7 linked regions of the Homo sapiens genome follow. The protein of the gene in region 1 purifies or fractionates together with the protein of each later gene. This does not show direct contact. Each region holds a gene or a part of one and is shown in the gene's direction. Other genes may lie near its edges.

Evidence for each region.
Region 2: the proteins of ISY1 (region 1) and GCFC2 purify together in Homo sapiens (affinity purification with mass spectrometry, with the first as the bait; one large-scale study listed by BioGRID). This does not show direct contact.
Region 3: the proteins of ISY1 (region 1) and CPSF3 fractionate together in Homo sapiens (co-fractionation; one large-scale study listed by BioGRID). This does not show direct contact.
Region 4: the proteins of ISY1 (region 1) and DHX35 purify together in Homo sapiens (affinity purification with mass spectrometry, with the first as the bait; one large-scale study listed by BioGRID). This does not show direct contact.
Region 5: the proteins of ISY1 (region 1) and GPATCH1 purify together in Homo sapiens (affinity purification with mass spectrometry, with the first as the bait; one large-scale study listed by BioGRID). This does not show direct contact.
Region 6: the proteins of ISY1 (region 1) and CWF19L1 purify together in Homo sapiens (affinity purification with mass spectrometry, with the first as the bait; one large-scale study listed by BioGRID). This does not show direct contact.
Region 7: the proteins of ISY1 (region 1) and ACOT9 purify together in Homo sapiens (affinity purification with mass spectrometry, with the first as the bait; one large-scale study listed by BioGRID). This does not show direct contact.

The regions. Positions count from the first base shown.
Region 1 is NC_000003.12:129,151,064-129,154,563, reverse strand, and holds part of ISY1 (pre-mRNA-splicing factor ISY1 homolog), read left to right. Parts: intron 1-3,500. UniProt on the Homo sapiens protein: Component of the spliceosome C complex required for the selective processing of microRNAs during embryonic stem cell differentiation. Required for the biogenesis of all miRNAs from the pri-miR-17-92 primary transcript except miR-92a.
Region 2 is NC_000002.12:75,669,416-75,672,915, reverse strand, and holds part of GCFC2 (intron Large complex component GCFC2), read left to right. Parts: exon of another isoform or gene 1-600; intron 601-899; coding exon 900-966; intron 967-2,631; coding exon 2,632-2,778; intron 2,779-3,500.
Region 3 is NC_000002.12:9,444,154-9,447,653, forward strand, and holds part of CPSF3 (cleavage and polyadenylation specificity factor subunit 3), read left to right. Parts: intron 1-3,500. UniProt on the Homo sapiens protein: Component of the cleavage and polyadenylation specificity factor (CPSF) complex that plays a key role in pre-mRNA 3'-end formation, recognizing the AAUAAA signal sequence and interacting with poly(A) polymerase and other factors to bring about cleavage and poly(A) addition.
Region 4 is NC_000020.11:39,035,344-39,037,782, forward strand, and holds part of DHX35 (probable ATP-dependent RNA helicase DHX35), read left to right. Parts: intron 1-2,439. UniProt on the Homo sapiens protein: May be involved in pre-mRNA splicing.
Region 5 is NC_000019.10:33,087,681-33,091,180, forward strand, and holds part of GPATCH1 (G patch domain-containing protein 1), read left to right. Parts: intron 1-453; coding exon 454-588; intron 589-3,099; coding exon 3,100-3,185; intron 3,186-3,500.
Region 6 is NC_000010.11:100,257,639-100,261,138, reverse strand, and holds part of CWF19L1 (CWF19-like protein 1), read left to right. Parts: intron 1-94; coding exon 95-173; intron 174-819; coding exon 820-921; intron 922-3,500.
Region 7 is NC_000023.11:23,740,477-23,744,603, reverse strand, and holds the start of ACOT9 (acyl-coenzyme A thioesterase 9, mitochondrial isoform a precursor), read left to right. Parts: upstream 1-1,327; 5' UTR 1,328-1,459; coding exon 1,460-1,479; intron 1,480-4,127. UniProt on the Homo sapiens protein: Mitochondrial acyl-CoA thioesterase. Catalyzes the hydrolysis of acyl-CoAs into free fatty acids and coenzyme A (CoA), regulating their respective intracellular levels. Regulates both mitochondrial lipid and amino acid metabolism.

The DNA.
Region 1 (3,500 bases):
TTACAGACAATGTTATGCCCATAAATTTGACAACTTAGATGAAATAGGTCAATTCCTTACAAGACACAAACTGCCAAAGCTCACTTAAGAGAAGTGGTCCTTTTTTTTTTTTTTTTTTTTTTTTGAGATGGAGTCTTGCTCTGTCACCCAGGCTAGAGTGCAGTGGCGAGTTCTCGGCTCACTGCACTGGGTTCAAGCAATTTCTCCCTGGGTTCACCTCCCTGGGTTCAAGCAATTTCTCCTGCCTCAGCCTCCCGAGTAGCTGGGATTACAGGCACCCTCCATCATACCTGGCTAATTTTTTTTTTTTTTTTTTTTTTTGAGACAGAGTCTCGCTCTGTCACCCAGGCTGGAGTGCAGTGGCGCCATCTCAGCTCACTGCAGGCTCCGCCCCCCGGGGTTCACGCCATTCTCCTGCCTCAGCCTCCCGCGTAGCTGGGACTACAGGCGCCCACCCCCTCGCCTGGCTGATCTTTTGTATTTTTAGTAGAGATGGGGTTTCACCGTGTTAGCCAGGATGGTCTCGATCTCCTGACCTCGTGATCCGCCCGCCTCGGCCTCCCAAAGTGCTGGGATTACAGGCGTGAGCCATGGCGCCCAGCCAAATTTTTGTAATTTTTTAGTAGAGACAGGGTTTCACCATGTTGAACAGGCTGGTCTTCAATTCCTGACCTCAGGGGATCCACCCTCCTCGGCCTTCCAAAGTGCTAGGATTACAGGTGTAAGCCACAGTGCCTGGCCGAGAAATAGTTCATTTTGTTTTGTTTTGTTTTGTTTTGAGACAGAGTCTTGCTCTGTTGCCCACACTGGAGTGCAGTGGCATGATCTTGGCTCACCGCAGCCTCTGCCTCCCGGGTTCAAGCGAATCTCCTGCCTCAGCCTCCTGAGTAGCTGGGCCTACAGGCGCCCACCACCATGCCCAGCTAATTTTTTTTTGTATTTTTAGTAGAGACGGGGTTTCACCATGTTAGCCAGGATGGTCTCGATCTCCTGACCTCATGACCTGCCCACCTCACCCTCCCGTAGTGCTGGGATTACAGGCTTGAGCCACTGCGCCCAGCCCTGAAGAAATTTTTGATTGTTACAACTGGAAGGGTGCTACTGGCACATAGTGGGTAGAGGCCAGGGATGTGCTAAGCCTCCTACAAATAATTATCCTAAATAAACTACAGTGTCAATAATTCTACTGTTTAGAGACACAGTTCAAAAAGAAATGGTAAACCTGAGTAGTCCTATATCTGTTAAAGAAATTGGGGCTGTGCACCGTGGCTCACGCCTGTAACTGCAGCACTTTGGGAAGTGGAGGTGGGTGGATCACCTGAGGTTAGGAGTTCAAGACCAGGCTGGCCAACATGGTGAAACCCTGTCTCTATGAAAAATACAAAAATTAGCCAGGCATGGTGACGCATGCGTGTAATCCTAGCTACTTGGGAGGCTGAGGCAGGAGAATCACTTTAACCCAGGAGGCAGAGGTTGCAGTGAGCCAAGATTGGGCCACTGCACTCCAGCCTGGGTGACAGAGCGACAGTCCATCTCAAAAAAAAAAAAAAAAAAGATGGAAAGAAATTGAATTCATTTCTAAATACCTTTCTAAAAGAAAATTCCAGACCCAGATGGCTTCACTGGTCAGTTCTACTAAATATTTAAGGAAGAAATAATACCAACTCCACATAGTTTCCTCAAGAAAATGGAAGAAGAGGGAACACTTTGTAACTCATTTTGTGAATTTTAGTATCAGCATTACCCTGATGCTAAAATCAGAAAAAGATATTATGAGAAATAACTACTGACAATATTTCCTATGAATATAGACAAAAATCTTTAATGAAACATTAGCATATCAAACCTAGCAATGTATGGCCGGGCGCGGTGGCTCACGCCTGTAATTCCAGCACTTTGGGAGGCCAAGGTGGGTGGATCGTGAGATCAGGAGATCGAAACCATCCTGGCTAACACACGGTGAAACCCCGTCTCTACTAAAAATACAAAAAAATTAGCCGGGCGTGGTGGCAGGTGCCTGTAGTCCCAGCTTCCTGGGAGGCTGAGGCAGGCGAATCGCTGGAACCCGGGAGGCGGAGCTTGCAGTGAGCCGAGATTGCACCACTGCACTCCAGCCTGGGCGACAGAGCGAGACTCCGTCTCAAAAAAAAAAACAAAACCTAGCAATGTATAAAAAGGATAATACATCACAACTAAGGAGGATTTATTCTGGAAAAACATAGTAGATTCAGCATTCAAAAATAAGTTAATTCACTGTGTCATTCCAAAGAAGAAAAACTGTATGATCTAAGTAGATGCAGAAAAAGTATTTGACAAAATTAGACGTTTATTCATGATAAGAACTCAGCAAACTGGGAATAAAAGGGAACTTTTTACCCTGATAAAGCACTTCTTTTTTTTTTCTGAGACGGAGTTTTGCTCTTGTCACCCATGCTGGAGTGCAGTGGTGCAATTTCAGCTCAATGCAACCTCCGCCTCTCAGGTTCAAGTGATTCTCCTGCCTCAGCCTCCCGAGTAGCTGGGATTACAGGTGCCAGCCACCACGCCTAGCTAATTTTTGTATTTTCAGTAGAGACAGGGTTTTACCATGTTGGCAAGGCTGGTCTCGAATTCCCAACCTCAGGTGATCCACCCACCTTGGCCTCCCTAAGAGCTGGGATTACAGGCATGAGCCACCACACCCGGCCCTGATAAAGTACTTATAAGAAACCCATAGCCAATAAACTATTTAATGGTGAAGGATTGAATGCTTTCCTCTTAAGATCAGGAACGAGGCAAAGACATCCACTCTCACCACTATATTCAGCGTGATGCTGGAAATCCTAGCCAGTGCGGTAAAGTAAAAAAAGGAAATAAAAGGCATAAAGATTAGAAAATAATAAGTAAAACTGTCTTTATTGTAACATAGAAAATCCTATATAATTTTCTTTTTTTTGAGATGGAGTCTCGCTCTGTCACCCAGGCTGAAGTACAGTGGTGCAGTCTCGGCTCACTGCAACCTCTGTCCCCTGGGTTCAAGCGATTCTCCTGCCTCAGCCTCCTGAGTAGCTGGGACTACAGGCATGTGCCACCATGCCCGGCCAATTTTTGTATTTTTACTAGAGACAGAGTTTCGCCATGTTGGCCAGCCTGGTCTCGAACTCCCAACCTCAGGTGATCCACCCGCCTCTGCCTCCCAAAGTACTGGGATTACAGGCATGAGCCACCATGCCCACCTAAAATCCTACATAATTTTCTATGTAGAAAATCCCAAGGAACCTACAGAAAGACTTCTAAAATGGATAAGTGAATTTATCAAGATCACAGAAAAGAAGTTCAATATACAGAATTATATATATACACACACACCCCATATATATTCATATATATATTTTTATATATTTATATATATTTTTATATATTTATATATTTTATATATTTATATATATATATATTTTTTTTTGAGACAGAGTCTTCCTCTGTCACCCACGCTGGAGTGCAGTGGCCCAGTCTCGGCTCAC
Region 2 (3,500 bases), on another chromosome or scaffold:
ATGAATTTTGTTTGGTTGGTTTTGGTTTTGGTTTTACATATATCCTAGGAACATAGCAGGTGATATAGAGTGGTAAAGAGCACACGTCCACTGTTAGTAGGTATTTTTATGCACTTGTTTTCTCATCTATAAAATAAGGATAAAATTAGTGCCTACCTCACAGGATATTAGGGAGATGAAGAGAATGCTCAGAACACAACAGGGCCTAGCACAGAGGAAGCACAATGCTGAGGAACGAGAAACTGCACCTGTAAATTCTGCAGTCACTTTAAATTATAAAACGAGTATTTGATGTATGATCATAACTTTGCTAAGAAGCCATCAGTTATAATGATGCATGAACTGTAGCAATCCAGTGAGTAGTGACAGGATGGAGGAGCTTTATGGAGGGGGAAGAAAGGAACCTCAAAGCTTTCTGATTCATTTTGAATCATGAGATGTCTACATGTAAAAATTCTGCCTTGGTAAACTTTGTTTATAATGTTTTAGATAATGCATTCACATGGTTCAGATGTATGAATGTGATATATTAGTTATTTGTTTATAAATATATATTTTATAAACATATTTATAAATATATAAATATATATTTTATAAACATATTTATAAATATATAAATATATATTTTATAAACATATTTATAAATATATAAATATATATTTTATAAACATATTTATAAATATATAAATATATATTTTATAAACATATTTATAAATATATAAATATATATTTTATAAATAAATATATATTTTATTTATAAAATAAAATAAACAATCTCTATTTATATTCCATTAAGGCTTAGTTTGGTTGGTTTAAAAGAAAGTCTGATCTTAAACTCTGGTTCTGAAAGACTAATAGTTCTTTGCATTTTCTCTTCTCTTTCGTTTGTTTCTAATTAGTGCTGTAGAAAACAAAACATCACCTCATTCAAAGTTCCAAGAAAGACAGTTCTGGTCAGGCCTAAAGGTGAGCAAAAACTGCAAAAATGAAAAGGCAATTTTTGTAAAAATCCTGTTTACTATAGAACAAAGAACAACAAACTTCTTCTATAAGAATTAGATAGTATTTTAGGCTTTGTGGTCACATGGTCTCTGTCGAATTACTCAACTCTGCCGCTGTAGCACAAAAACAGTCATAGTACATAAACAAATGAACATGGCTGTTTGAATAAAACTTATGAACACTGAAATTTGAATGTCATATAATTTCCTCATGGTACAAAATATTTTGTTTAAAGACAGTTTTAAAACGTCCTTGAAAAGTGTTAAAACCATTCTTAGCTCACGGACCCTATAAAAACAGGCAACAGGATGGATTTAACCCACAAGCTATATAGTTGGCTAACCCCTGGCCTTAAAATTATTGCTAAGTCAGTGGCAGTAGGGATGAGAAGGAGAAGAAGGTTCAAACAATGTTTGGGAGGAAGCATTGAAAGGAGTCGATAACTGATCAAGGGAAGATAAGATCTATTTTGTACATAATGAAGATATATGTGGGACAAATAGAGATACAGAGGTCTAGGAGGTGGTTGGATACATAAGTCTGAATTTCAGGAGACAGATCTGAGCTAGAGATTTGGGAGTCCACTACCTGTAGGTAATATTTGGAGCCATGGTCATGAATGGCAAGCTGCGTAAGGAGACTGGATGAAGCATGAGAAGTAGGCCAAGGACAGAACCTCGGGAAATACTAACAGAAGAGGAGAACATGGAGGCTTCAGGGAATCTGTAGAATCAATTATGAGCCTTAGGATGATCACAAGAGAATGGCCTCAAGGAAGCTAAATGAAAGATTTTCAAGAATGAAGAAAAGAGTGTTAAATGCCACCAAAGAGTATTAAGAGAAAGACTGAAACACTGTTTATTGGATTTGACAATTAGAAGGATATAGGTGACCTCACCAAGAGTAGTTTTAATAGTGTGAATTAATATTTGTCATGTGGTTGAATCAGGGAAAAGGCTTTCTGGGAAGAGGGAACAACATCAACAATGAGATAAAATGTGAAAAAGCATTACATTTTAGTAAAACAGCATGTAGTTCAGCACTCAGAGTAATGAATATAGTACTGCAAAAAAAGAAACACCTTAAAATTCACAGAAAGATCTGAATTTAGTAGAGGGAAAGGACAACCAATATTTTATTAGAATTTATTATGGTTACTTAATCCAAGTTATCTTCAAACTCAAAGGTGATTATAAATCTTTATGTATCAGAGGAATGAAGCTCTCAGCGTTGATTGCCTTCTCAAGGTCACATGTTGGTAATGGCGGCCCTAGTTTTGACAGTAGTTCTTTATGAATCACGTGGTCCTGTGGTCTTATACTTGATGGCCCCCGGCTTTGAGAGAAAATGGATTGGGAAGGAAGATTATTGATCTGGAAAGGCTCTAGTGAAGTTATTTGAGATAGATTTGGGGATGGTTATCCTAGAAAATGAAAATAAGATGAGCAAATACATGGAGTTTGGAAAGAATCAAGTATTTATTCAGAGATATTGTATTCTAAAATTGACAGTTCCAACAGGGCTAATTGTAGTGAGAATTTTAGTTTGACCAACTCTTCATGTTTGTTAGAGACTATTACAGTTTCTCTTTGGAGAAAAGGTACATATTTACTTGATATTTTATTTTAGCTCTTCCGCAATATTCTTCTTTGGAATGGACTCCTTACAGATGACACCTTGCAAGAACTAGGACTAGGGAAGCTGCTAAATCGTTACCTTATTATAGCACTTCTCAATGCCACACCTGGGCCAGATGTGGTTAAAAAGTGCAACCAGGTAAGTTGTGAAGGAAGACTGATTCTAATTTTATCATTTCTAAAAAATTTAGCTATTAAAATCTATTATTTAGCAAAATAATTAAATGTGTGGTACTCATATATAGACAAATGGGCCAGGCACAGTGGCTCATGCCTGTAATCCCAGCACTTTGGGAGGCTGAGGCAGGCGGATTGCGTGAGGTCAGGAGTTTGAGACCAGCCTCACCAACATGGTGAAACTCCGTCTCTACTAAAGATACAAAAATTAGCCAGGTGCGGTGGCTAACACCTGTAATCCCAGCTACTTGGGTGGCTGAGGCAGAAGAATCGCCTGAACCCAGGAGGCAGACGTTGCAGTGAGCCGCCATTGCACTCCAGCCTGGGTGACAAGAGCAAAACTCCATCTCAAAAAAAAAAATTGACAAATGAATTTAACAAAGCTAAAATGCAGAGCCGCTCTTCTGTATTTAAGAAAGAGTATACTGGTTTGAAATATCCCCAGTAGGGAAAGGAAAAATTACTTAATAAATGATGCTAGATGGCTGGCTGTTTACAAAAAGAATGTTAAGTCCTCACCTCTCACTATACACCAAAAAAATTTCAGGTAAAATTTTAAAAAATGTAAAAATGAAACTATAAAATATACTAAGATGGTAAATGACTATATTTGAGAGTGAGGGAGTTCCTTCTAAACTTAAAGGCAAAAGAAGAAATTATGAGAAAAAGTAATAAATTTGAAAA
Region 3 (3,500 bases), on another chromosome or scaffold:
ATATATTTTTTTTTTTTTTGAGGCGGAGTCTTGCTCTGTCACCCAGGCTGACTGCAACTCCGCCTCCCGGGTTCAAGCAGCTCTCTGCTTCAGCCTCCTGAGTAACTGGGATTACAGGTGCCCACCACCACACCCGGCTAATTTTTGTATTTTTAGTAGAGATGGGGTTTCACCGTCTTGGCCGGGCTGGTCTTGAACTCCTGACTTCATGATACACCCGCCTCGGCCTCCCAAAGTGCTGGGATTACAGGCGCGAGCCACTGCACCCGGCCGACTTACTTATATTTTTAAGTATCGTGTAACTTATTAAAAATAAGTTAGATATTTTGATGGAATTGGAAAGGAGGGGTAAGCTGAAAAAAGTGTGTATTTTTAATTAGAAGAACACTAATGAAGCATGTGTCCATAGAAAATAGATGACGTGCCCTTTCCAAATGTATTGGAAAGCAGGAGAAATGGCCTTTTGTTAGTTTTGTTTGTTTGCTTGTTGTTTGGGGTGTTTTTTGGTTTGTTTGTTTGTTTGTTTGTTTGGATGAAGTCTTGCTCTGTTGCCTAGGCTGGAGTGCAGTGGCGCCAATCTCAGCTCACTGCAGCTTCTGCCTCCTGGGTTAAAGCAATTCTCCTGCCTCAGCCTTCCGGGTAGCTGGGATTACAGGCACGTGCCACCACGCCCAGCTAATTTTTGTATTTGTAGTAGAGACAGGTTTTCACCATGTTGGCCAGGCTGTTCTCAAACTCCTGACCTCAGGTGATCTGCCCGCCTCGGCCTCCCAAAGTGCTAGGATTACAGGCATGAGCCACTGCACCTGGCCTTGCTTGTTGTTTTTTAAATACGTTTTACTGTGGTAAAATATCTAACATAAAATTTGCAGTTTTAACCATTTTTAAGTGTACAAACCAGTGGCATTAATTATATTCACAGTGTTGTACAACCATCACCACTGTCTATTTTCACAGCTTTTCATCACTCCAAGCAGAAACTCTGTACCGTTACACAGTAACTCCCCATTCCCTTCCGCCAACCCTGGTAATCTCAAATCTACTTTCTGTTTCTATGAATTTGACTATTCTAGGTATTTCATATAAGAGGAATCATAATGCCTATGATGTTTTCAAGGTTCATCATGTTGTGGCATGTATCAGCACTTCATGCCGAAGTCATGGTCCGTTATATGTAGACCACATGTTGTTTATCCATTCACCTGTGGGTGGACACTCGGGTTGTGTCACTTTACAGCAAATGTGAAGTGGTATCTCGTTGTGGTTTTTATTTTCATTTCTCTAATGACTAATGATGTTGAGCACCTTTTCATGCAGTCTTTTGTTCGTTTTTGAGTTTTTTCTAGCATGATAGGCCTCACAGGTATTTGCCACTGGCCCTTAATGAGCAGATTATTTGGTCAAGAAAAATCACTCTCCTGTCTATAGCATCACAGTGTGTAGGGTTTAGTCACAGAGTAGGCTCCTCCCAGGTGTTTCTTATTGTCTGTGTGCATGAACACTCCCCCAGATTTCCAAGCCAGGGAGGAAAAGCCGAATTGCTCTTTTGTGTGGTGTCACCACCTCATCCTCAGCCCCATTTCATCCTGTCACTCTCCTGGTTCTACTTCTGCTGACAGTTTAAGTTCCTGGGTTGAACTTCATGCTCATTTTCTTGTGATAACCAGCTCCAGCAAAAGTATAGCTGCAGGATAAAATTGCAATACTAGTAGTGTTGGTGGTAGTAATGAATACTAGCTAACATTGATTATTTACCATGTGCCGGACACTGTATATGTGTTTTATATGAACTGACTTGCTTAATCTTCATGACCGACAGCTGTTCTGCAGATGAGACAACTGAGGTGTGAAATCACTTGGTCAAGGTTACACAGCTTAAATAAGCAGCAGCACCAGGATTCTGTTCAGGCAGCCAGGCCCAGGCCCTTCCCCAGCAAGCAGTAAGCCCCTGCCACGTGCTGGTGCTGGCTATGCCCAGCCACAAGCCATCTACCACATGTGAGAGGCTAAGAACAATCTATCTTGGCCGGGCTGCAGTCCCAGCACTTTGGGAGGCCGATGTGGGTGGATCACTTGAGGCCAGGAGTTCGAGACCAGCCTGGCCAACATAGTGAAACCCCATCTCTACTAAAAGTATAAAAATTAGGCAGGGCACGGTGGCTCATGCCTGTAATCCCAGCATTTTGGGAGGCCAAGGCGAGCAGATCACGAGGTCAGGAGATGGAGACCATCCTGGCTAACACGGTGAAACCCCGTCTCTACTAAAAATACAAAAAAATTAGACGGGTGTGGTGGCAGGTGCCTGTAGTCCCAGCTACTCGGGAGGCCGAGGCAGGAGAATGGCGTGAACCTGGGAGGCGGAGCTTGCAGTGAGCCGAGATCACGCCACTAGACTCTAGCCTGGGCGACGGAGCGAGACTCGGTCTCAAAAAAAAAAAAAAAAAAAAGTATAAAAATTAGGTAGGCATGGTGGTTCACACCTGTATCCCAGCTACTTGGAGGCTGAGGCATGAGAATCCCTTGAACCCTCGAGGCAGAGGCTGCAGTGAGCCAAGATCACGACACTGCACTCCAGCCTGGGTGGCAGAGTAAGACTGTCTCAAAAAAAAAAGAACAATCTGTCTTGTAAGATAGAAGTTACAAAAGTGAATGGAAAGGGACTGGTAGCTAATGCTGTTGTTGTAAATACCCTCTAAAATATTCCATTTGGGGCTGAGCACAGTGGCTCATGCCTGTAATCGTACCACTCTGCAAGGCTGAGGTGGAAAGACTGCCCAGAAGTTTGAGACCAGCCTAGACAACATAGTGAGACCTTGTCTCTACAAGAATAAAATAAAACTAGCCAAGCATGGTGGCTCATGCCTGTAGTCCCAGCTACCTGGGTGGCTAAGGTGGGAGGATTGTATAAGCCTGGGAGATTGAGGCCACGGTGAGCCAAGATTATGCCACTGCACTCCAACCTGGGCAACAGAGCAAGACTCTCTTTAAATAAAGAAATATATAAAGTAATAAAATGTTCCATTTGGTTCTGAAATATTTTATTAGGATAGGTACAGTGGCTCACGCCTATAATCCTAGCATTTTGGGAGGCCAAGATGGGCAGATCACTTGAGCCCAGGAGTTCAAGACCACCTTGGGCAATATGTGAGACCGTGTCTCTACAAAAAATACAAATATTAGCCGGGCATGGTGGCGTGTGCCTGTAGTCCCAGCTACGTGGGAGGCTGAGGCAGGAGGATTGCTTGATCCCTGGAGGTTGAGGCTGCAGTGAGCCATGATCACATCACTGGACTCCAGCCTGCGCAACAGAGTGAGACCCTGTCTCCAAAAATATATCAATATATGAGGTAGGCCAGGCACAGTGGCTCAAGCCTGTAATCCCAGCACTTTGGGAGGCCAAGGTGGGTGTCAAGAGTTCGAGACCAGCCTGACCAACATGGTAAAACCCCGTCTCTACTAAAAATACAAAAAATTAGCCAGGCATAGTGGCGTGTACCTAT
Region 4 (2,439 bases), on another chromosome or scaffold:
TTACAGGTGTGAGCCACCACGCCCAGCTCCTTTTTTAAAAGGGTTACAGCCCTGTGCTGTTTGTGGCCTGAAAATACTTGCTTTACATATTTTGCCCAAGTTTACTGTTGTTTACAGCAGAAGAGAAAGTCTGAAACCTTTTTCTCCATTAGGGCCAGAATTGGACTACACAATGTTTCCAAAGCGATATTTGAATTGATTGCCACATTGAAAAATTGGGAGATTTCATATTAAACATGAATTTCTGGTTTCTCTTGAAAGACATGTTTAGTCTGGCAACACTAGGCTTGCGTTCCTACGTGGTGGCATCACAGGGGCTTAGGGGTGGCTGCCTGCTGTTAGTGACATCGCCAGGTGCCGTAGTCCCATGTCACTTGCTTACTTGCCTGCTGCACTCTTGGAGACATTTGAATTTGTGACCCTGTAAATGGAAGGATCTCCTCATCTCTCCTGCTCCAGCAAAGTCAAGGGACATTGCCCTCTCAAAATTTTATAATATTTAATTTTTATGTAATCAAACAAAAACCATTTCACACCTTTATAGTTCTTCACACATCCCAATTCAGATATTTCAGCTGGAAAGCAGATCAGCCTGCAGGGACTGATAAAAATGCAGTGTGTGTTGTCTTTGCTGAATTAGGTTGATAAGAATAAACCTGGTGAAAGAAAGGCTTTTCCTTCAAAACCTCTCAGGTGGAAAGCAGCAGACTTCAGGAGTCAAGAGAAGGGATCAGAAAGGTAAACTAGAGGTTGAAAGAGGAATGGTGCAGTGGTCAAAATGCCTGTTAAAGTAAGAAGATGCAGACAGCCAGAGAAGGATAAGCCTGAAATTGTCTTGGATTCATTTAGACTCTTGGAAACAGAATTAGCCCAGAAGCTGAGTCATTTTCCCTTCTCAGCTCAAAATTCCAGTTTCTTTAGGTCAAACCCACAAAGTTAAAGAGCAAATAGCTTCAGAAATTTGAAGAAAATAACAAGCCCAAATTTCTTCATTTGTCTCTTCTCTCCAAATGGCTTTTTTATTTTTAAGCTCATCACCTCCACTGTCATCGGAGTATTTTTAGAGAGGCTGGGACAGACCTTTAGAAATCACCTAGTGCGGCCGAGCACGGTGGCTCACGCCTGTAATCCCAGCACTTTGGGAGGCTGAGGTGGGTGGAACACATGAGGACAGGAGTTCGAGACCAGCCTGGCCAACATGGTGAAACCCCGTCTCTACTAAAAATACAAAAATTAGCCGGGCATGGTGGCATGTGCCTGTAATCCCAGCTACTTGGGAGGCTGAGGCAGGAGAATCACTTGAACCTAGGAGGTGGAGGCTGCAGTGAGCCGAGATCACACCACTGCACTCCAGCCTAGGCGACAGAGCAAGACTGTCCCCCCAAAAAAAAAAAAAAAAAAAAAAAAAAGAAATCACCTAATACAACAACCTCATTGTATAACGATGGTCCCCAAACCACAGAGAAACTTGTGTTGTTTCTTAACTGTATAGTCCAAGGGCACTTCTACTATTAACTTGTCCAAAGCAGATTGATTTCTCAAAGAACCTCCAGATCTACAGGGGTTGCCCATGTATGGTAGATGTTCCTTTACTGAACACAGTGCAGCACCTCACAACCTTCCACAGCCCACAGATCATTCACGGCTCTGTTCCTGGCACCTTTGGAGACTTTCCATCACCACTGTTTTTCGGAATGTTGCTCTCACCCTGTGTGGAGGCCTGAAATGGTTCAGAGTCAGCTTTGTTTATATTCAACATTCTTCCCAGAAAAAAGCACCAAAAATGGCCCCACAGGCACAATGGCGTCATCTCCCATCCCCAAGCTAAGGCCGTGGATATCTAACATTAGCTGTAGGGGTTATATCAGGTGACGTGTAGAGAGAGAATTCAGAGAAATTCAGCAAGACCTACAGCTAGACAGGGGAAGAACGGGGTGACCTATTCAGAGATTTGCCTTCTGGCTTTTAAATTATTTTTCCTTATTCTCAGAGATATCTTCATTATTAGGGAAAACCCTTTTAACGAGGCCTTTGCAAGAGCCTGTAGTAGTCCTCCCTCAGGTGTAAGCAGATGGAAAGTCTGAGTTCTTGTAGCTCATTTATACCCGGGTCCTGTTCGCTCTGTTGTCTCTCACGTCATACCTGGTGGTGCGCTGTGTCTTCGTTCACGCCCTCCATTTTTTCAGGGCCTGCAGTTCTCTCTGGGGGCGATGCGGCTTGATGTTGTGGGGCCATGTGGCTGTGCTAAGTAGTGGGCACACCAGCTCCGGAGCAGTCAGGGTGGGCATTCTCATGTGAGGCTCCCACTGTGTGTTAGTTGGCACGGCTTAGGGATCTCTTGGTTATTGATGATTAGTAATGGGCTGTCGGGTATATCCCAGTTGATGAGTGGAGGGAGGTCTTTCATTAAAAGCTTGTATTTACACACTCTGCCTCAAA
Region 5 (3,500 bases), on another chromosome or scaffold:
TAATTTTTTTTTTTTTTTTTGGGGGAGAAGTCTCGCTGTGTCTCCCATGCTGGAGTGCAGTGGTGTGATCTCGGCTCACTGCAACCTCCACCTCTCGGGTTCAAGCGATTCTCCTGCCTCAGCCTCCTAAGTAGCTGGGATTACAGACGTCTGCCACCACGCCCGGTTAATTTTTGTATTTGTTAGTAGAGCCGGGATTTTGCCATGTTGACCAGGTTTTGTAATGGAATTTAGTGGGAAAAGAGGGCAATCATTATTACATAAGCTTATAAAATATATTGTTTTCTAGGCTATATAAAGCAGTAAAGTCTAGGAATAACAATTTAAATGATTATATTTGAATTATAAGAAGTAAACAATTTATGATATTTAAAAAGTGACATTTTCCCTAAATTTGAACCGACCATCTCCTCTCTTTTTCATTTAAAAAACTTTTTTTTTTTTTTTTTTTAGGTGAAAGACCAAAGAAACCAATCCCTCTTCAGGATCAGACTGTCAGAGATGAAAAAGGAAGGTATAAACGATTCCACGGGGCCTTTAGTGGAGGTTTCTCTGCTGGATACTTCAATACTGTTGGCTCAAAAGAAGGTATCATTTTCCTAATTGTAGCTATTATACCATTAAAGCAAATGATCAAAATATTGATTCTCCCTCACCCTTGCTTTTTTTTTTTTTAATTTTGAGACAAGAGTCTCGCTCTGTCGCCCAGGCTGGAGTGCTGTTGTGTGATCTTGGCTTACTGCAACCTCCGCCTCCTGGATTAAGCGATTCTCCTGCCTCAGCCTTCCAATTAGCTGGGATAACAGGCGCATGCCACTATGCCTGGCTAATTTAAAAAAAAATACTTTTAGTAGAGACAGGAGTTTCACCATGTTGGCCAGGCTGGTCTCAAAGTCTTGACCTTGAGTGATCTGCCCACCTTGGCCTCCAAAAGTGCTGGGATTGCAGGTGTGAGCCACTGCACCCGGCCACCTTTGCTTTTTTTTTTTTTTTTGCGATGGAGTCTTGCACTGTTGCCCAGGCTGGAGGGCAGTGGTGTGATCTTGGCTCACTGCAACCTCCGCCTCCCGGGTTCAAGCGATTCTCCTGCCTCAGCCTCCCAAGTAGGTGGAATTACAGGCGCCTGCCACCATGCCCAGCTAATTTTTTTTGTGTTTATAGAGACAGGGTTTCACTATGTTGGCCAGTGTGGTCTCTAACTCCTGGCCTCAAGTGATCCGCCTGTCTTGGCCTCCCAAAGTGCTGGGATTACAGGTGTGAGCCACTGCGCTCAGCTTTCTCTGAACATACACTGTAACCTCTTGTGTTCTTTGGATATTTGGATGTTTCCAGAGTCAACTTGTATCTTGTTCATTGATTGCAACCTTATGGTTAAAGAGTTTTCTTTCACTTTGTAAAAAAATGCATACCTCCTAATCAGATGATTAAATGATAATAATGACTTTGGTTTTTATTGTGTCTTGCCATTCACGAAATACTCTTAAACAGAGTCTTTCAGTTAATCATTGACTGTCTCTCGTGACTGAGTGAGTGAGGAGGGCAGGTGTCACAGGGATCTTGCAGATGATGCCACCAAGGGTCAGAGAGGTTAAGGAGCCAGCATGGCGTTAGTGCTGAGGGAAGAGTCACCAGGTGCCCTCTTCAGACACTGGGGACCACAGCAAGACTGGCTCCTCAGTGCTCTCTACCTGGGGAAAAGTCAGTTAAATCTTTTATGTTATGTACTTTTATAAATGCCAAGTTGTTTAAAGTATTGTATGTTTTAAGATATATTAATCTAGAAGCATTTTTTTGAACTGGAAGAAATGGCTTTCTATATCTCAGTTATGAATGGAAGATGAACTGATTTTATTATATGTGCTGCCATAGTGAGCACGGAAGATGAACTGATTAATTCACATAGCAATTATCAAGAAAAAGATGGGCTAGATCTTTTATAATTTTTTTTTTTTTTTCCTGAGATGTAGTCTCACTCTGTCGCCCAGGCTGGAGTGCAATGGCATGACCTCGGCTCACTTCAACCTCCGCCTCCTGGGTTCAAGCAATTCTCCTGCCTCAGCCTCCCGAGTAGCTAGGACTACAGGTGCCCGCCACCACACCCGGCTGATTTTTGTATTTTAGTAGAGATGGGGTTTCACCATGTTGTTCAGGCTGGTCTCGAACTCCTGACCTCAAGTGTTCCACCCGCCTCAGCTTCCCCAAGTGCTGGGATTACAGGCGTGAGCCACCATGCCCGGCCTTACCATTTTATTTAATTAATTGATTTATTTTTTGAGACAGGGTCTCACTCTGTCGCCCAGGCTTTAGTGCAGTGGTGCACCTACTGAGAGTAGACCTTCCCCAGATGCCTCAGCTCACAGGGCCCTTGGAGAGAATCAGGAAGGAGGTGCAACCCTCTTAGAGAAAACTAAACAACTTTATGTGCAGAGGTTACAGACATATGTGACCTCCAGAGCATTCCCTGTTTGTGGACGTGGCACATGCTCGGTAACCGTGGTCAGGGAACAAGGCCATTGGTTACAGGATTCCAGTGTCTGTTGAAACTGGGGGACTGGCAGAGCCGCTGCCCTTGGACCTGCCAGGTTGAGTCTTTGGTCAGGGTACTGTGAATGTTGCCTGGATTCCTTCTGTTACTCTCTCTTTATCCACTCTGACTGATTAAAACACCTTGACATCATATCTTTACACTTGATCTTAGCCAAAAGGCCTAGAAGCGATGACATCATTTCTTTAGATATGTTAATATGCCAGTGGAGGTTGCTGGTCTCACGTCCTGCATTTTAAGGTGACCTTGCATCTGTCAGCTCAGATCTGCTTGTGTTCATTTCACAGTTTAACTTTCAATGTGTAATTCTATATCTCTTGGTTTCACTTTCTTATGGGGAAACCTTAATGTATCCACTAAGTTTTACATCAGGGGATACAGGGATTAATAAGAAATTTATGTGGAATAATTACGTCTATATAAGCACTGAGATGGGAAGTAGCTAAGAGTTTATAGTTATTGGGAATTTCAAGTCCATACATGTTATTTAATCATTTACTCATAGACCCAAATACTCTCTAGGATTGTAAAGTTCTAAACTCTTTTTTTTTCAGGATGGACACCCTCTACCTTTGTGTCTTCACGACAGAACAGAGCAGACAAATCTGTTCTTGGTCCTGAAGATTTTATGGATGAAGAGGTGCGTGTGCAAAACTTTAATTGCCAATTAGCTGGTGGGACAGGTCTAGTTGGTTGCTGTAACTGCCTTCTCTCTCCCCAGAAGGTCCAATGTACGATTTCCTCTTTGTTTGTAAGGCTTTATCTTTTAGGTATTTGATGTGCAGTGTCCTGTACATCAGTAGAGTCTTGTTCATTGGAGGAGCATTTTATACTGGGGCCAATTTCTAAAATCAAGAGTGTAAGGGGAAAGTCATATACAGGCAATTTACTTGAAAAGCCTCGTGGCTGGGTGCGGTGGCTCACGCCTGTAATCCCAGCACTTTGGGAGGCCGAG
Region 6 (3,500 bases), on another chromosome or scaffold:
TGAAACTATTAAATAACTAGTTGAATATTACTATCAATTATGTACTGTTTGATATTTTAAAATCTCATATATCTGTTTAAAAAACTCATTTTAGCTGCTGTTGTGTGTAGGAAATTTCTTTGGCTCCACCCAAGATGCTGAATGGGAGGAGTATAAGACTGGCATCAAGAAAGGTATAGAAATTATTTTTATTTAACATATGATTTCTAATAAAATTTCAAGGGCCAGAGTTCTTGCAGAGTTGTTTTTCATTATTTAAGAATTTAAGAGTTATTTTCAGTATTTAAGAATTTAAGTTGCTTTTCATTATTAAGACTATCCGGCGCAGTGGCTCACACCTGTAATCCCCGCACTTTGGGAGGCCGAGGCATGTGGATCACCTGAGGTCAGGGGTTCAAGACCAGCCTGGCCAACATGGTGAAACCGTGTGTCTACTAAAAATATAAAAATTAGCAGGGCATGGTGGCGCATGCCTGTAATCCCAGCTCCTCGGGAGACTGAGGCAGGAGAATTGCTTGAACCTGGGAGGCGGAGATTGCAGTGAGCCGAGATTGCACCACTGCACTTCACCCTGGGCGACAGAGCAAGGCTCTGTCTCAAAAAAAAAAAAATAAAATAAATAAAATAGCCAAGCTACAAGGTTGGGTGTAGTATATCCTTAGTGGATAGCTGTTCCACATTTAGGATTGCTAAATATGGGGAATGTGAATGCATGGACTATTTACTTTTAATATAAGTATTTTTTCTATAGAGAGGCATATCTTAAGTTCTAAAGCAGATCTGGTAACTATATGGTGTCATGTCTGTTTCCCTCACTAGCTCCTATTCAGACATATGTGCTTGGTGCTAATAACCAGGAAACAGTAAAATATTTCCAGGATGCTGATGGATGTGAATTAGCTGAAAACATTACTTATCTGGGTAAGCTGATACTTGTTGTATTTTTTTTTTGTTTTTTGTTTTTTGTTTTTGAGACGGAGTCTTGCTCTGTCACCCAGGCTGGAGTGCAGTGGCGCAATCTTGGCTCACTGTAACCTCCACCTCCCGGGTTCAAGTGATTCTCCTGCCTCAGCCTCCTGAGTAGCTTGGATTACAGGCGTGTGTGACCATACCCGGCTAATTTTTTTTATATTTTTAGTAGAGACAGGGTTTCACCGTGTTAGTCAGGATCATCTCGATCTCCTTACCTCGTGATCCGCCCACCTCGGCCTCCCAGAGTGCTGGGATTACAGGCGTGAGCCACCGCGCCTGGCCGATATTTGTTGTATTTGTAATGAACATAATATAGTGTTCTCAGGAATTAGTCTCCCAGGAAATTTTTGGCTAGATTTTTCAGTGATTGCAGCCTGAGATAATGGGGTTTGGAGGGTTTTTTCCCAGAGTCTGTATATGTGCTGCTGTGCCCTTAGGACAATGCCTTTAGGACAGTGGCATTTTTTCTTTATTATTTCTACCACTTAGCCCCAATATCGTTGCGTTCCCACAACCCGGTACACACTTGTTTAGCCAACTGGAGGGATAAACTCCTTGTCTATAGTATATGGGATACTTAAGGTATAAATTATGTTCACACAAAGGAAATTTCATGTATGTGGCTTTACCATACAATCTTGCTAGGTATATACAGCTTACTTGTTAATGAGCCTCCCAACTATTTATAGCTCTAGGTTTCACTCTAAGGTTTTGGCAACTCAGGTTTTTAGTGCTGTTCTTTGGGGGCTTTTTACTCTTTTTTTACTCTCCTTTTTCTGGTTCTAGGTACACTCTTCAGTTCCAGCTTAAAGTTGTTTCCTCCACAGCCCTCTGTATTGCTTTTAGTGGCTCTTTCAATGTCTGGCTGTTTTCAAAAGCACTGTCAAATTTTGCTTTTGTTTTCCCCCCACCTGCTGGCAGTCTGCTGCCTCTTAGATCATTCAACTCTTTTTTTTTTTTTTTTTTAAGACAGTGTCTTGCTCTGTTGCTCAGGCTGGAGTGCAGTGGCATGATCTCGGCTTACTGCAACATCCGACTCCCTGGTTCAAGTGATTCTCCTGCCTCAGCCTTCCGAGTAGCTGGGATTACAGGCACGCACTACCATACCCAGCTAATTTTTGTATTTTTAGTAGAGACGGGATTTCACCATGTTGGCCAGGATGGTCTCGATCTCCTGACCTGGTGACCCGCCTGCCTCAGCCTCCCAAAGTGCTGGGATTACAGGTGTGAGCCACTGTGCTCGGCTTTTTTTTTTTTTTTTAGTTGAATTTACTATTCTTCACATTTCCTCCTTGTTGGTCTTATTTCTCTAGAAAACTTCTTCATTTCCTTTGCTGTAAATGTCCTCTCTCTCCTTCCCCATCATAGTTCATCTTGGCCTTTAGTCTTTATTTGGCTATGGCCCTCCCGTTACCAGTCTTATTTTGCACTAATCCTGTGGGACTTCTTTAAGCAAAAATTGAAGGAAGGACTTTATTTGTTTTGTTGTTTTAATATGGAACTCTTCATGAATTTGCATGTCATCCTTGTGCAGGTGCCGTGCTAATATTCTCTTTATCTTTCCAGTTTTAGTATATGTGCTGCTGAAGTGAGCACTGTTTAGTTTTAACTACACATATCAGATACGCATTTTGAAATTCTGTTGTAGATTTTAACATGAGCCTGACTTATGCAGTTCTTGGTATAGTTTGTAGATTTGGATTAAGGGCATTACTGTAGATATTTGGCAGCCATTTTACTATATGAATTTAGTGCCAGGAAAGGAAAGAGCAGCTAAGGTACTTGGGTTATTTCTGTGAAATAGATTTTTTGGATCCAGTAGGAGGATCAAGCAGTGAACTTGGTAGTGAACATGTGATAGTGAGCTTGAAATACTGGTAGGACATCCAACATATAGTTGGAAGTGAGAGTTATTATTATTATTTTTTGAGATGGACTTTCGCTCTTGTTGCCCAGACTGAATTGCAATGGCATAGTCTTGGCTCACTGCAACCTCTGCCTCCCGGATTCAAGCGATTCTTCTGCCTCAGCCTCCTGAGTAGCTGGGGTTACGGGTGTGTGCCACCATGCCCGGCTAATTTTGTATTTTTTAGTAGAGACAGGGTTTCACCATGTTGGTCAGGCTGGTCTCGAAATCCTGACCTGAGGTGATCCAGCTGCCTCAGCCTCCCAAAGTTCTGGGATTACAGGCATTAGCCACTGTGCTGGTCCGAGAGTTCTTTCTAGAGTATCAGTGTTGAAGAGTATAGGCTTTGGAGAGTTGGTCCCATAATGATGAAAAATAGAGCTGAGAAGAGGATCAAATTATTAAGGAAGAAATACAATCAGAAGGGAAGCAGGTTGATGATAGTACCTTGGTGGGTGGGGATGGTATATCTTCATCTAGGGGGTAGGAACAAAGACATAAAAGTGCTTAGAGGACTGTTTGAGAGGTAAAGATATTGTCAACTTCATGGAATCTACTGAAGATAACATAGTTTCAGGAGAACATTGGCAAATATAGGGTGACCTTTAAGAGAGTGATGGGA
Region 7 (4,127 bases), on another chromosome or scaffold:
CTTCCAGATGTGAGATTGATAAAAGCAGGGAAAATTCAGTAGAAAGAGAAAGCCGAAGACCATGCTCCATGTGTAACTCATGAAGTGATTCAAAACAGAAAGCTAGCTTAATTCAAATCAATACATTTTTACTAAGTATGGGGTATTGCGAAAAAGCATATGGCCCTTGCCTTTTAGGAAATTGCCGTATTTAGAGGCAAAGCAAGACTTGCTTATATTCTCAAAAGATCCCCACTCGTTACCTTATTTCCCCTTTAAACCGCTTTACCATATTTGAGATCATGTTATTTGCTAACTTGTTTGTTGATTTGTTTTCCTTCCTTATCAAGAGGCAAGCCCCTTAAGGGCGGGGATTTTTGTCCTTTTTTCTTTTTGCAACCCCAACCTCTGCAATAGTGCCTGGCACAATGCAAACAGCTCAATAATAATTCGTTGAAAGAAATGGAGAATTAGATCGTAGGGTGAAATAATCTTAAACTCTCTGGCCTTGAATCTCTCTAGCTCGCCCAAGATATCAAACATTGGGGGTCAGGCCGAGAAGAGGAGAGGAACAATTTTTTCCTGTTAGGTCAGTGGTTTTTAGCCTTTGGTTACATTAGCATCACCTGGGGGCATCTTTAGACATCATCCCGAAGCCCAGACCGCACCCAGGACTAAACTAGAATCTCCAGCCAGTGGGTCTCAAGCATCAGTTTTTTGTTGTTTTTTTTTTGAGACATTGTCTCCTTCTGTCGCCCAAGCTGAAGTGTAGTGGTGCGATCTCGGCTCACCGCAACCTCCGCCTCCCAGGTTCAAGCGATACTCGTGCCTGTCCCCCGAGTAGCTGGGATTACAGGCGTCTGCCACCACGCCTGGCTAATTTTTGAATTTTTAGTAGAGACAGGGTTTCGCCATGTTGGCCAGGCTGGTCTTGAACTCCTGACCTCAGGTGATCTGCCCGCCTAGGCCTTCCAAAGTGCTGGAATTACAGGCGTGAGCCACCGCGCCCGGCCAAGTATCAGTATTTTGGAAAGTTGCCCAGGAGATTCCAATGTGCAGCCAAGGGGAAGAACAGACGGAGCCAAGGCGCGGGGATCAAGGATAAAGGAGACAAGCTCCACTAGGCAGAGCCGGGCCTCTTCTCGACGTCACGCCCTGGCGTTGCTGCGTGGTTCGTTTACTCAACCGAGAATAGGCCGGTCCTCGCTGTAGCAACACGACCCGCACAACTGATTGAGTGGGAAGCTCCGCAGAGGCGGACTCCAGCCTCCCGCCAATGAACGGGTAGGGTCCGCCCGGCACAGCGCGGCCACGCCCCCTGGACGCCGCGGTCCCGCCCCCGGACACCGCTGTCCGGCTCCCGGGCTGTCCTCAGCAAGGGCGCGGTCTGGTACTCGTGCGTCTTTTATCGCCTCAGTTTCCCTCCGCCGACTAGCGCGCGGGGCCCGGTTCTCCATCGCGCGCACGGCAGCCTAGCGCAATGAGGCGGGCAGCACTGCGGTAGGTGGCGGGGCGTGGAAGGGGCTGGCAGGGCGGTAGCCTGGGGTGCCATCGTCTTCCCCTAGAGCTTCGGGCTGGCCCCGGCGGAAGAAGTGGGCCACGCATGGGCATTTGGGCTCTATGATAAGGGGCGCTCGCCCACTGTACCTCCGACCGGACATAAGCCCGCCGGCCTTTGGTTGGGAGAACCTCGCCCCCACTTTGGCGACTTCTAGCACTGAGTTTGATATTAAAAGCAAAGCAGCACTTTTAAGGGAGGAAGTTGGGTGTTCCCTAAAATTCCTTTGGCCTTGCTCATCCGGGGTGTGGTTGGTAGCCGCGTCGGGGTAGCCCCTTGTCAGAAAGATAATATTTGGAGTTCTATGTTACCTCTAGCCCTTCATCTTCCTTTGGAGAACATTTTTAGGATTAAATGCTTGACCTACTTCGGCTCTTACTTAAGTTTGTTGTAACATTGGCAGAGATTACAGGGTACCTTTTGGCTCCCAGGACCCTAGGACTGTGCGTCTAGGACCCTGGTGCCAATTTGAACTTAACTTTAATGAGCCGCAAAGCCCTTATAAGAGGCTGGGTGCTTTGATTGGGCCACGTGGGTAAGGGAGGATGCCTTTTTGTATATGTAATCTTCCCAGCTGGCACAGTTAAGGCCTGAGGGCCTTAGACTCCAGAGCGTGTCTAGCTCTCCCTAATCCCTTTCACCCGAGCATGCCACCCTTTCCAAGTTTTCTGCCTGGCTGCATCCCAGGGGGCTCACACCTGCTCCAGTTTCTGAAGTTATCTCGCTGCCAGTGGGCCTGTCCCCCTGATGTGACTCATAGTGCTTTTGACTCACATTAACCCCATCAATTCTCTTGGGGGTCCTGGATATCTCTCTCTCTCTCTCTCTCCCTCTCTCTCTCTCTCTCTCTCTCACTCACTCACTGTTCCTGGGGACTTTGTTATCAGTTGTAAGGGTTCTGTCTTGTTTATAGTACTTAAAAACAAACAAAAAACCTTTGTTAAACTATTTGAAGGCAGACTGAAAGTCATTATGAGAGGGGCCACAGTTGACTTTAGCTTGCAATGTGAAAGGTCTTCTACAAAAGCTCCATGGTCTTGTTCAGGTGCTTTCTCTTATAACCCTGTGTTCCTTTCTTGAAAATTCTATTGAGGCCGGGTGTGGTGGTGCACGACTGCAGTCCCAGCGTTTTGGGATGCTGAGGTGGATGGATCACTTGAGGCCAGGAGTTCGAGACCAGCCTGGCCAACATGGTGAAACCCCGTCTCTATTAAAAATACAAAAATTAGCCGGGAGTGGTGGTGCATGTCTGTAGTCACAGCTACTTTTGGAGGCTGAGGCAGGAGAATCGCCTGAACCGGAAGGCAGAGGTTGCAGTGAGCTGAGATCGCGCCCCTGCACTCCAGCCTGGGCAACACAGTGAGATTCTGTCTCAAACAAAAAACTATTGAACCTTAAGCGGATAATCTCTTAGTGTCTAGTGAGAGGAGGAGTTCACAAATGAATATAGACTGAGATGATTAGGTTCTTTGACTGGTGGGCAACCTTTGTAGCTTCTTTTCTTTTTTAGACTTGCAAGAGGCACCTTTGTTTAGTCTCTAAATAGAGGTTATTTCCTCAGAGTGGAGGGCATATGAGTGGTATTGCCTGTTATTGCACTGAACACTCTTCCTTGCCAACTGCTGTAAGCTTGGGACCCAGGGCTGAGCCAGGGTGAGTTATGTGACTCCCCAGGTAGGCCATGGAGGCCTTGAGTTTTCTTTTTTTTTTTTCTCTTTGAAATACTTTTTTTATTTCTTTGGGATATATGTCCAGAAGAGAAATTGCTGGATCATATGGTAGTTATATTTTTAATTTTTGGAGGAACTGCCTCATTATTTTTCAAAATGGCTGTACCAGTTTACATTTTCACCAATAGTGTACGAGGGTTCCCTTTTCTCTACATCCTCACCAACACTTGTTATCTTTTGTCTTTTTGTAATAATCATCTTTTTATTATTATTATTATTATACTTTAAGTTTAGGGTACATGTGCACAATGTGCAGGTTAGTTACATATGTATACATGTGCCATGCTGGTGTGCTGCACCCATTAACTCGTCATTTAGCATTAGGTATATCTCCTAATGCTGTCCCTCCCCACTCCCCCCGCCTTGAGTTTCTTGATCTCCTTTGATTGGAAAGGTTCAGTTACAAGGTCCTGGGATTTGAGTGTTGCAAAGGCCTCTCCACAGTAAAGGCCTAGAGGTTTTGCTATAAGTAAGACTCCTGAGGGCTTATCAGGAGATAAGCCAGTAACCCTGAGGTACTGAAGTGTTGAGTATTGATTAAAACCATTCTCCCACCTCCTCCACCTCAGTGCGGTGTGTGTGTGTGTGTGTGTGTGTGTGTGTGTGTGTGTGTGTGTGTATGTATTGGGGGAGATCGGAAGAACTGGGCTCTATCTGGACTCTGCTGGTGTGCCTGTTGACTGGCACTGGGGGAAAGTCGTCTGAAACTGGGGCCTCAGTTTCTTAAGGAGGTTGGTTTGAATCAGAATCTTCAAATATAGGGGGATCTGAGGGTACAAAAAGGGTCTGTGCACCTCCTGAAATAGTATATACCATTGTGTGTGTGAGCAAAAATGTATTCCAACCCTTCCCACGCCCGC